Linked DNA regions of Homo sapiens. The protein of the gene in region 1 purifies or fractionates together with the protein of each later gene. This does not show direct contact. Each region holds a gene or a part of one and is shown in the gene's direction. Other genes may lie near its edges.

Region 1 (4,373 bases):
TTGCTGGGTGGACACTAGGCCCTAACTCCTTGACCTTGCCTGTACTTAATGCCCTGCCTCATGATGCCTTCAGACAGTGAAGAATGTTCAACAGCCAGCCAAGTGAAAGGCCACAGGGGAGAGCTGTGAGACCTCAGTTCTGCTGCTTCTCAGTCCTGTTGATTTCCGCTGCACCTTGCTGCCCCTGCCCAAAAGGAGGCTATGCCTAGGCAGCACACGGTACTGGAAATCACCTGATGCAGAAAGAATTCTTACCTTGTCAGGGCATTTTCCTTGTGACATGCCAGGTGCTTAGAATATGCTTTTCAGTCCTTTCACCACATAATCGAATGAAATGCGCAGGCAGACTGGGTCTTGTTTTCTAACTGGCATTACACAGTTCCCTGGATTCAACCAGGCTCTGGTGAGGAAACAGACCTGTTGACACTGTTGGGAGGAGTGCAGTGCTTCAAGTGGCTACTTGGTCCCCTTCAGCCAACTGGGTCACACTTGCTCCTGTGGTCATATGGCTTCCCCTCCGTCCCTGGTTCTTTCTTGTCACCACGTCCATTTGGTCCCCTTCAGCCAACTGGGTTGCACTTGCTGCTGCGGTCATATGGCTTCCCCTTGGCCCCTGGTTCACACTCACCACCAGTGAACCTCCAGTTCTGGAATACCCCAGAGGCAGATGGTGTATGTATCTAGGTAACAGCAGCAACAAAAGCAACTGAAAAGCTTTTGAAAAAAATTTTATATTTGCTACTTTTTAAAAGATAGCTTCTTTGAAATAATCACCATGGAAGAGTCAAAATGGTGTTGGACTTTTCGTATGCATGTTGTACAGTTATGTGGTTTTTGTTAGTGAAAAAAGAAACTCAAACTTGGGGAGGCTGAGGCAGCAGAATCACTTGAACCTGGGAGGCAGAGGTTGCAGTGAGCCGAGATCACGCCACTGTACTCCAGCCTGGGTGACAGAGCAAGACTCTTTCTCAAAAAATAAATAAATAAACAAAAGAAACTCAAACTGACAAAAGATCCAAGAACAGTGCAGTAAATTCCTATATTGTCCTTCACCTTGATTTACCAGTTGTTAACATTTTGCCACATTTGCTTTCTCCCCCTATATATAACATACAGATACATACATATATACAGATATAGTTATATGTACTATATATTATAATTATTACTGTTATTTTGTTGAACCATTTGAGAGTAGGTCAAAGACATTGTGAGCTTTCATTCCTAAACACTTCAGCCTGTATTTCCGAAGAACAAGGGCATTCTCTTATGTAATCACAATGCGGTTTTCCAATCTAAGAAATTTAACGTTGATACAGTGCTATTACAGTTGGAGCATTTCTAATCTGAAAATGGAAAATGCTCCAAAATCTGGAATTTTTTGAGTTCCAAAATGACACAAGTGGAAAATACCACACATAAGTACTTAATATAAATTTAGTTTCATGCACAAAATTATTAAAAACATTGTATAAAATTATCTTCAGTCTATGTATATAAGATGTATGTGAAACAAATGAATTTAATGTTTAGACTTGGATCCCATCCCCAAGATATCTTGTTATATATATATGTAAATATTCCAAAATCTGAAAAAAATCCTAAATCCAAACCAATTCTGTTCTCAACCAATTTCAGATAAGGGATATTCAACTTGTATGGAATATACAGCCCACGTTCAAATTTTGCCATTTGTCACAATTCAAGTTGTGAGTTGCTTTTATTTTATTTTATTTTTTTATTTTTCTTTTTTGAGACAGAGTTTTGCTCTTGCGCCCAGGCTCGAGTGCAGTGGCATGATCTTGGCTGACTACAACCTCTGACCCCCAGGTTCAAGCAATTCTCCTGCCTTAGCCTCCCAAGTAGCTGGGATTATAGGCGCCCGCCACCATGCCTGGCTAATTTTTGTATTTTTAGTAGAGATGGGGTTTCGTCACGTTGGCCAGGCTGGTCTTGAACTCTTGACCTCAGGTGATCCACCCGCCTCGGCCTCCCAAAGTGCTAGGATTACAGGTGTGAGCCACTGCGCCCGGCAGAGTTGCTTTTAAGTATTTATTGGCAGGAAGAAATAGGGAGGTAGGTTCCCAAGGTCATACCTTGCACCAGCTTTCATTTGCTTTTTTATTTTAGGTTTCTGTCTGCTGGTCCTCCACTAGAGCACCCTCAACGAATAATCCTGAGACTGCTGAGGGAGCTGGGGCTTGAGTATCCTGCAGTGTTTGCATTGTTGTGAATGTTCAAGTAACAAGTCACACAGTCGATGTATTTTCCGGTGTGGACATTTAATATAAGGATATGTTTTTGTTTTTAAAGACTTCAACATTATTAGGTAGATTCTTTTACTATCGTACAAAAAATCAGCCGGTCTGCATGTATTACTAGTTTTAATAATACACTTTGGCCCCTGGACCAGAGATAACGTCCTCAATTAAAACTACAAATCACACCACTGCCTTAGCACCAGGGGGCAGAGTCGGGCTTGCTGAGACACTGGAGTGGGGAGTTTTTTAACCCGGTGTGCCATATTTGGGTTTAAATTATTTCACTCCTGATAGAAATGTGCTCACTAGTGAAATTGGTAATAAGTTTATCCTGATTTGTTTACATAGTTAAACCCCTGACTTCTGCCATTTCCCTTTTCCTGAGGTTTATATACATTTGCTCTTTTCCAAAGATAGGGAAATAGAAGCTTACTGTCAACCTCAATCAAGATGCACTGCTAAATCGTGAGGGACTCGTTTCTGTTTTCCTTTTAGAGTATTCTGCATTCACAGATAAAGTGTCTTTGTGTTACATCATGAATTTACATAAGACTGCTTTGGCCTTAGAGTATTTATAAAACATTAATGGATTAAAGAACCAGGGGATGTAGATAGGATGCTAATACCTGGTTATCATTTGGTAGGAACTGGCTCAGCAAAGTGGTTTAAATTTCCTGACCAAGCCAAACTACAGAGGTGTTTGCATTAGGACAAGGATTATAAAGAGATTATGGTCTATTTAAAATAAATCTTCAGCCTTGCTTCAGCCTCATTAGCAATTAGCAAGAAAGTGTGAAGACAGGGATTTCTTTCTTTTCATTTGGTTCTCCGTTGCATCATAAGAGGTTAGAACCCAATTAGGCATTCGGTCCTTGCCACCAAAAGTCAGCTTCCTTTGATGCTTGGCAGTCTGCCAGCTTCTTTTGCCTTGCAGTACCTGCCTCTGGACAATGTGTTTGGTACACCAGGATGTCTGATTTTATGAAATCTCTAAGTCTAGAATGCTTTCTGATAGTGATTTTTTAAAACTCAAATCTTCCCTCTTCCATAGTATCAGAAAATAGACCTTTTAGTTAGATACAGAAAATTAATTCTATTTTTGTTCCTGCCAAGACTGATGACTGTGGGCTTTTACATGTTGGTATCTTCCAAGAGCATGTTCGAGACATCCATACTTTGAGACTTACATGTCTATAGGATGGTGGGGCTCAGTTCTACAATGATTTAATGTCTTAAGAAATGAGGACACCTTTTGTGTTATTTCAGAAAGTCTAACACTTTAGAGGCTCCATAATATCCACTCTAAATGGAAGAAATCTTTTGATATATCTTGAGAGAATCTTGGTTGCCATTCATCCGCTACTTTTCAGAGAGGAGCAGTGAAACCATCAGGCCGCTTGTTGCCTGGAATAGGCCTGAGTATCCTATGTGTTCTCTCCATCCCTCTTAGACTTGGATATCAGGATTCCCATAATCCCCATTGCCCAGTGTTTTATTTGCCACAGCAAAACTTAGTATTGATAAAACTATCAGGTCGGTCATTTAGGATTGACTTTCTGTCACATGACTAGAGAAGCAAGTTCAATGAATATTAGATTTGGCCAAACCCTGTTTCTTGTACCGTTACGTTTGTGTAACTTTATGAGAATCCAGAGGCCAAAGTAAAGAAAATGGCCTGATACTAAATAAGAGCTAAATGTGGATTTAAAGAAACACTGTCAGCCTGATTAAAACAAAGGTCCGATTATGACATTTCATTACTATAATTTAGTGGTAAACGTCCTTTGGCTCTAAGGCTTTCTCCTGAAAAGCTGTCATTTGTTTGTCAAGATACTTAAAATAATAACTCTTTGTTTTTACAGACCTTGGGTTTATTCTAAACCACTTAGAAAAATGTGTCAGAGTGCTTCAAGCCCACAGATATGAAATGCCCAATTTCTCTTGGCCCTTGCCTGTTGGACATCTCCAAAGAGACTGGCTTAGTTGCTGTCGCTACAATGTGCTAATTGGCGCAGCACCTGCAATCAATTAGGGAAGCTTCAATTATCCAAACCAAAGCCACCCACCCAAAGATTAATTTTCTGCTCTATTTCCTATCAAAAACATAGCATA
Region 2 (4,055 bases), on another chromosome or scaffold:
TAATGAAGATGTTTAGCACGTAGACAGAGGTGGTGTTTGCACAATGTGCATGTCTAAATGCCATTAAATCACACATTTTAAAATGGTTAATTTTATGCTATGGGAATTTCACCTCGACTTAATATATACTCAATCCCGTCCAGCCGACACACCTTTGGCTCAGGCCTAGGCCACTCTGCCATCTGCCAAGTGTGGCTTGTGTAACAGACAACTTCTCTGGGCCTCAAAGAGGGTGAAGAAATCCATCCTCCCCACAGGGGTATCTCCAGAATCCAACGAGATGAAGTGAGGTGAAAGCGCTCTGAAGGGCAGGAAGCTCTGCTGACACAAAATGTTTACCCATAACACGTGGCTTAGAGTCCCTTACCCTCTAGCTTGGCGGGAGAGAGAAGTCTGCTCTCCCTACCCCACGCCCCATCCCCTGCTCATCCCCTGCCAGCCACCCACCACACCCTTCACGCAGAGAAGTATAGAGCCACAGGGGGAGGGCGCCATTCTCTCTCTCCCTCCCTACTCAGGAATCTCCCTGAAGCTTTGACAAAGCCCCCTTGACACCCCGCATTCAATCTTATTTTTATTTTTTTTTATTAACTCTGTCACCTAGGCTGGAGTGCAGTGACCTGATCTCAGCTCACTGCAACCTCCGCCTCCTGGGCTCAAGCGATTCTCCTGCCTCAGCCTCTCAAAATGCTGGAATTACAGGCGTGAGCCACCATGCCCAGCCATTCAATCTTTTCTTTCCCAGATTCTCACCTCCAATCACAAGATGAAGGCAGGGAGCTCACAGCCCTGTGAGGGGCTGGGGAGAATGGCAGGGGTGGGCCAGAGTTATTAAAAGCCCAACTGATGTTCAGATTTATTTTGACCCTCCCCTATACCCCCACATCCAATTTCACTCTAGTAGGAATCAAGACAGGGGAGAGAGGGATTCCAAGCTGACTTAGGGAGAGGAAAATACATACATACGTAAAGCATTTGCCACAGGCCCCACCTGAGCTAAGCACTTTCCCTCCCTCAACAGCTCCTTTAATTCTCAAAGCATCCCTTTTAGTAGATAATAGACCCCACTTTGCAGAGGAGAGCACTGAGGCTGAGGAAAGAGGTAAATTCATTCAGCGGGTGAGGGAGGAGCTGGGATTTTAATGCTGGCAGTATGACCTCCCCGCCACTGGCACACCGGGTCTTTTGCTGGGACATCCCCTGTAACCGGATTGGGGGAATGCAGGAAAAACCCCATCCCTCCCTACAGAGCCTCAGCAGTGACAGCTACTTCCCGGATGAGAAGGGCGGCCGTGAAGCCAGCAGGGAAGCCAGCCCCACAGCCAAGGGCCCCCCAGCCTCCTCACAGCTCCCCATAGCCTGGACCTGCCGGCCCTCCCTCCAGGACCGAGGGGCTCCCAAGGGAAACTCAGGTGAGTGTCGCCCTCTCCCAGGGAAGATGGGAATCAGGGCTTGGAGACAACTGGCTATCCTGCATGATCCACAGGTTTTCCTAGGGATGAATCAGATTGTGTGGTGTGCGTGTGTGTGTGTGTGTTCCACACTCACGGTCCAAATAACAAGACAGAAAAAGAGCAATAAAGATCTGTGCAAAAGGGCTGAGGAATGAAGTGCCAGGAGAGAGGTGGAGGTTGGAGACCACCTAGGAATGGTGGGTGTGGGGGGATTGAGGGGGTTGTTGAGGGGGAACTGGCTGGGGGTGGGGAGAAATGTTGGTGGACACCAACAGTCCTGGCCTCTTCCAGCTGAAACCCCTTAAGAAAGTATCTCTGCTCTTGGGTCAGAGCTAGCAAGTGAGTTGTGTATTATTTATTCACAGTTTGAAAGCTAAACTTCCCTTTCTTGCCTTAGCCCCAGAATCTTTCCCCAAAGCCCCCGACTCCCTCTGGCCTCTACCTTGAGGACACAAGGCTCTCGAGGTCTGCTTTCCCTTCCAACCCTCCCTTCATCCCAATAGGCGTGTGCTGGTCCCAATGTCAGTGAAACCCAGCTGGGGGCCTGGCCCCTCGGAGGGGGTCACCGCAGTGCCTACCAGTGACCTTGGAGAGATCCACAACTGGACCGAGCTGCTTGACCTCTTCAACCACACTTTGTCTGAGTGCCACGTGGAGCTCAGCCAGAGCACCAAGCGCGTGGTCCTCTTTGCCCTCTACCTGGCCATGTTTGTGGTTGGGCTGGTGGAGAACCTCCTGGTGATATGCGTCAACTGGCGCGGCTCAGGCCGGGCAGGGCTGATGAACCTCTACATCCTCAACATGGCCATCGCGGACCTGGGCATTGTCCTGTCTCTGCCCGTGTGGATGCTGGAGGTCACGCTGGACTACACCTGGCTCTGGGGCAGCTTCTCCTGCCGCTTCACTCACTACTTCTACTTTGTCAACATGTATAGCAGCATCTTCTTCCTGGTGTGCCTCAGTGTCGACCGCTATGTCACCCTCACCAGCGCCTCCCCCTCCTGGCAGCGTTACCAGCACCGAGTGCGGCGGGCCATGTGTGCAGGCATCTGGGTCCTCTCGGCCATCATCCCGCTGCCTGAGGTGGTCCACATCCAGCTGGTGGAGGGCCCTGAGCCCATGTGCCTCTTCATGGCACCTTTTGAAACGTACAGCACCTGGGCCCTGGCGGTGGCCCTGTCCACCACCATCCTGGGCTTCCTGCTGCCCTTCCCTCTCATCACAGTCTTCAATGTGCTGACAGCCTGCCGGCTGCGGCAGCCAGGACAACCCAAGAGCCGGCGCCACTGCCTGCTGCTGTGCGCCTACGTGGCCGTCTTTGTCATGTGCTGGCTGCCCTATCATGTGACCCTGCTGCTGCTCACACTGCATGGGACCCACATCTCCCTCCACTGCCACCTGGTCCACCTGCTCTACTTCTTCTATGATGTCATTGACTGCTTCTCCATGCTGCACTGTGTCATCAACCCCATCCTTTACAACTTTCTCAGCCCACACTTCCGGGGCCGGCTCCTGAATGCTGTAGTCCATTACCTTCCTAAGGACCAGACCAAGGCGGGCACATGCGCCTCCTCTTCCTCCTGTTCCACCCAGCATTCCATCATCATCACCAAGGGTGATAGCCAGCCTGCTGCAGCAGCCCCCCACCCTGAGCCAAGCCTGAGCTTTCAGGCACACCATTTGCTTCCAAATACTTCCCCCATCTCTCCCACTCAGCCTCTTACACCCAGCTGAGGTAGAGGCCAGACTCCTCCAACAGTGAAGGAAAAGGCACAGGTGAGAGTATAGGTGGGAGATTTGGGGGGATGTAGAGGGGAGGGTCAAAGCACTCGTGGTCAATTTTGAATCTATCTTAAAATACTGAGGTGTGGAGAGAGAGACAGGATCAGGAGCGATAGAGAGCAGGCCCTCAGTGTTGTACTATTTGTCTCGGTCCTTGTGTCTAAGGAGCAATGCAGAAAAAAAGGTGAAATAAATGGAAGAGATAGCCATGGACTCTGGATCTTTTAAAAATCTGCACTTCCAGCTGGGATTGGGAAGGGAGCTGAGGCTAAAGAGGTGCTCGGCAGAGGAAACTAGACACATTCATTTCATAAATCACTCTGGCTGGAAACAGTGAACTCTGCAGGAACCTCACAAAACTCCTTTTGCGTTTGTGAGCTTGTTGATCTTCCAGCTCACTATGCAGGTTATGGGGACAAGAGGCCAGAGGCCAAGGAACCAGGCGGCCCCAGCAGGACGTTCCCTAGCTGTGCATCCTATGCACAGCCATGATAAGTGAAGGCGGATGGGGATGGCAGGGGTGGGGGCGAAGCCAAGGTCTGAGACCTGCACCCTGCAGCTGGGTCAGCAGGATGGTATCTCCACCCGCGGCCATCCAGGAAACACAGCTCCATTTCCTTGCTGACACCCTCCCCTCCCCGTTGTCCATCCTGCTCCCTCCCCACAAGCAAGAGGAGTTGTCCCAGAGTCAGCTCCTCATAGCTGACCTCTTACCAGCTTCGGATCTAGGAAACTTCCAGACTTCTAGGGAGACACAGAGCTACCAGAAAGCCCAACCCACCCCCATCTCTTTCTCTCCAGATCATAGGAAAGTATCAA

The links.
Region 2: the proteins of SMIM20 (region 1) and ACKR5 purify together in Homo sapiens (co-immunoprecipitation; one large-scale study listed by IntAct). This does not show direct contact.

The regions. Positions count from the first base shown.
Region 1 is NC_000004.12:25,923,502-25,927,874, forward strand, and holds part of SMIM20 (small integral membrane protein 20), read left to right. Parts: intron 1-4,373.
Region 2 is NC_000012.12:56,993,237-56,997,291, forward strand, and holds the start of ACKR5 (G-protein coupled receptor 182), read left to right. Parts: upstream 1-1,255; 5' UTR 1,256-1,412; intron 1,413-1,957; 5' UTR 1,958-1,973; coding exon 1,974-3,188; 3' UTR 3,189-4,055. UniProt on the Homo sapiens protein: Orphan receptor.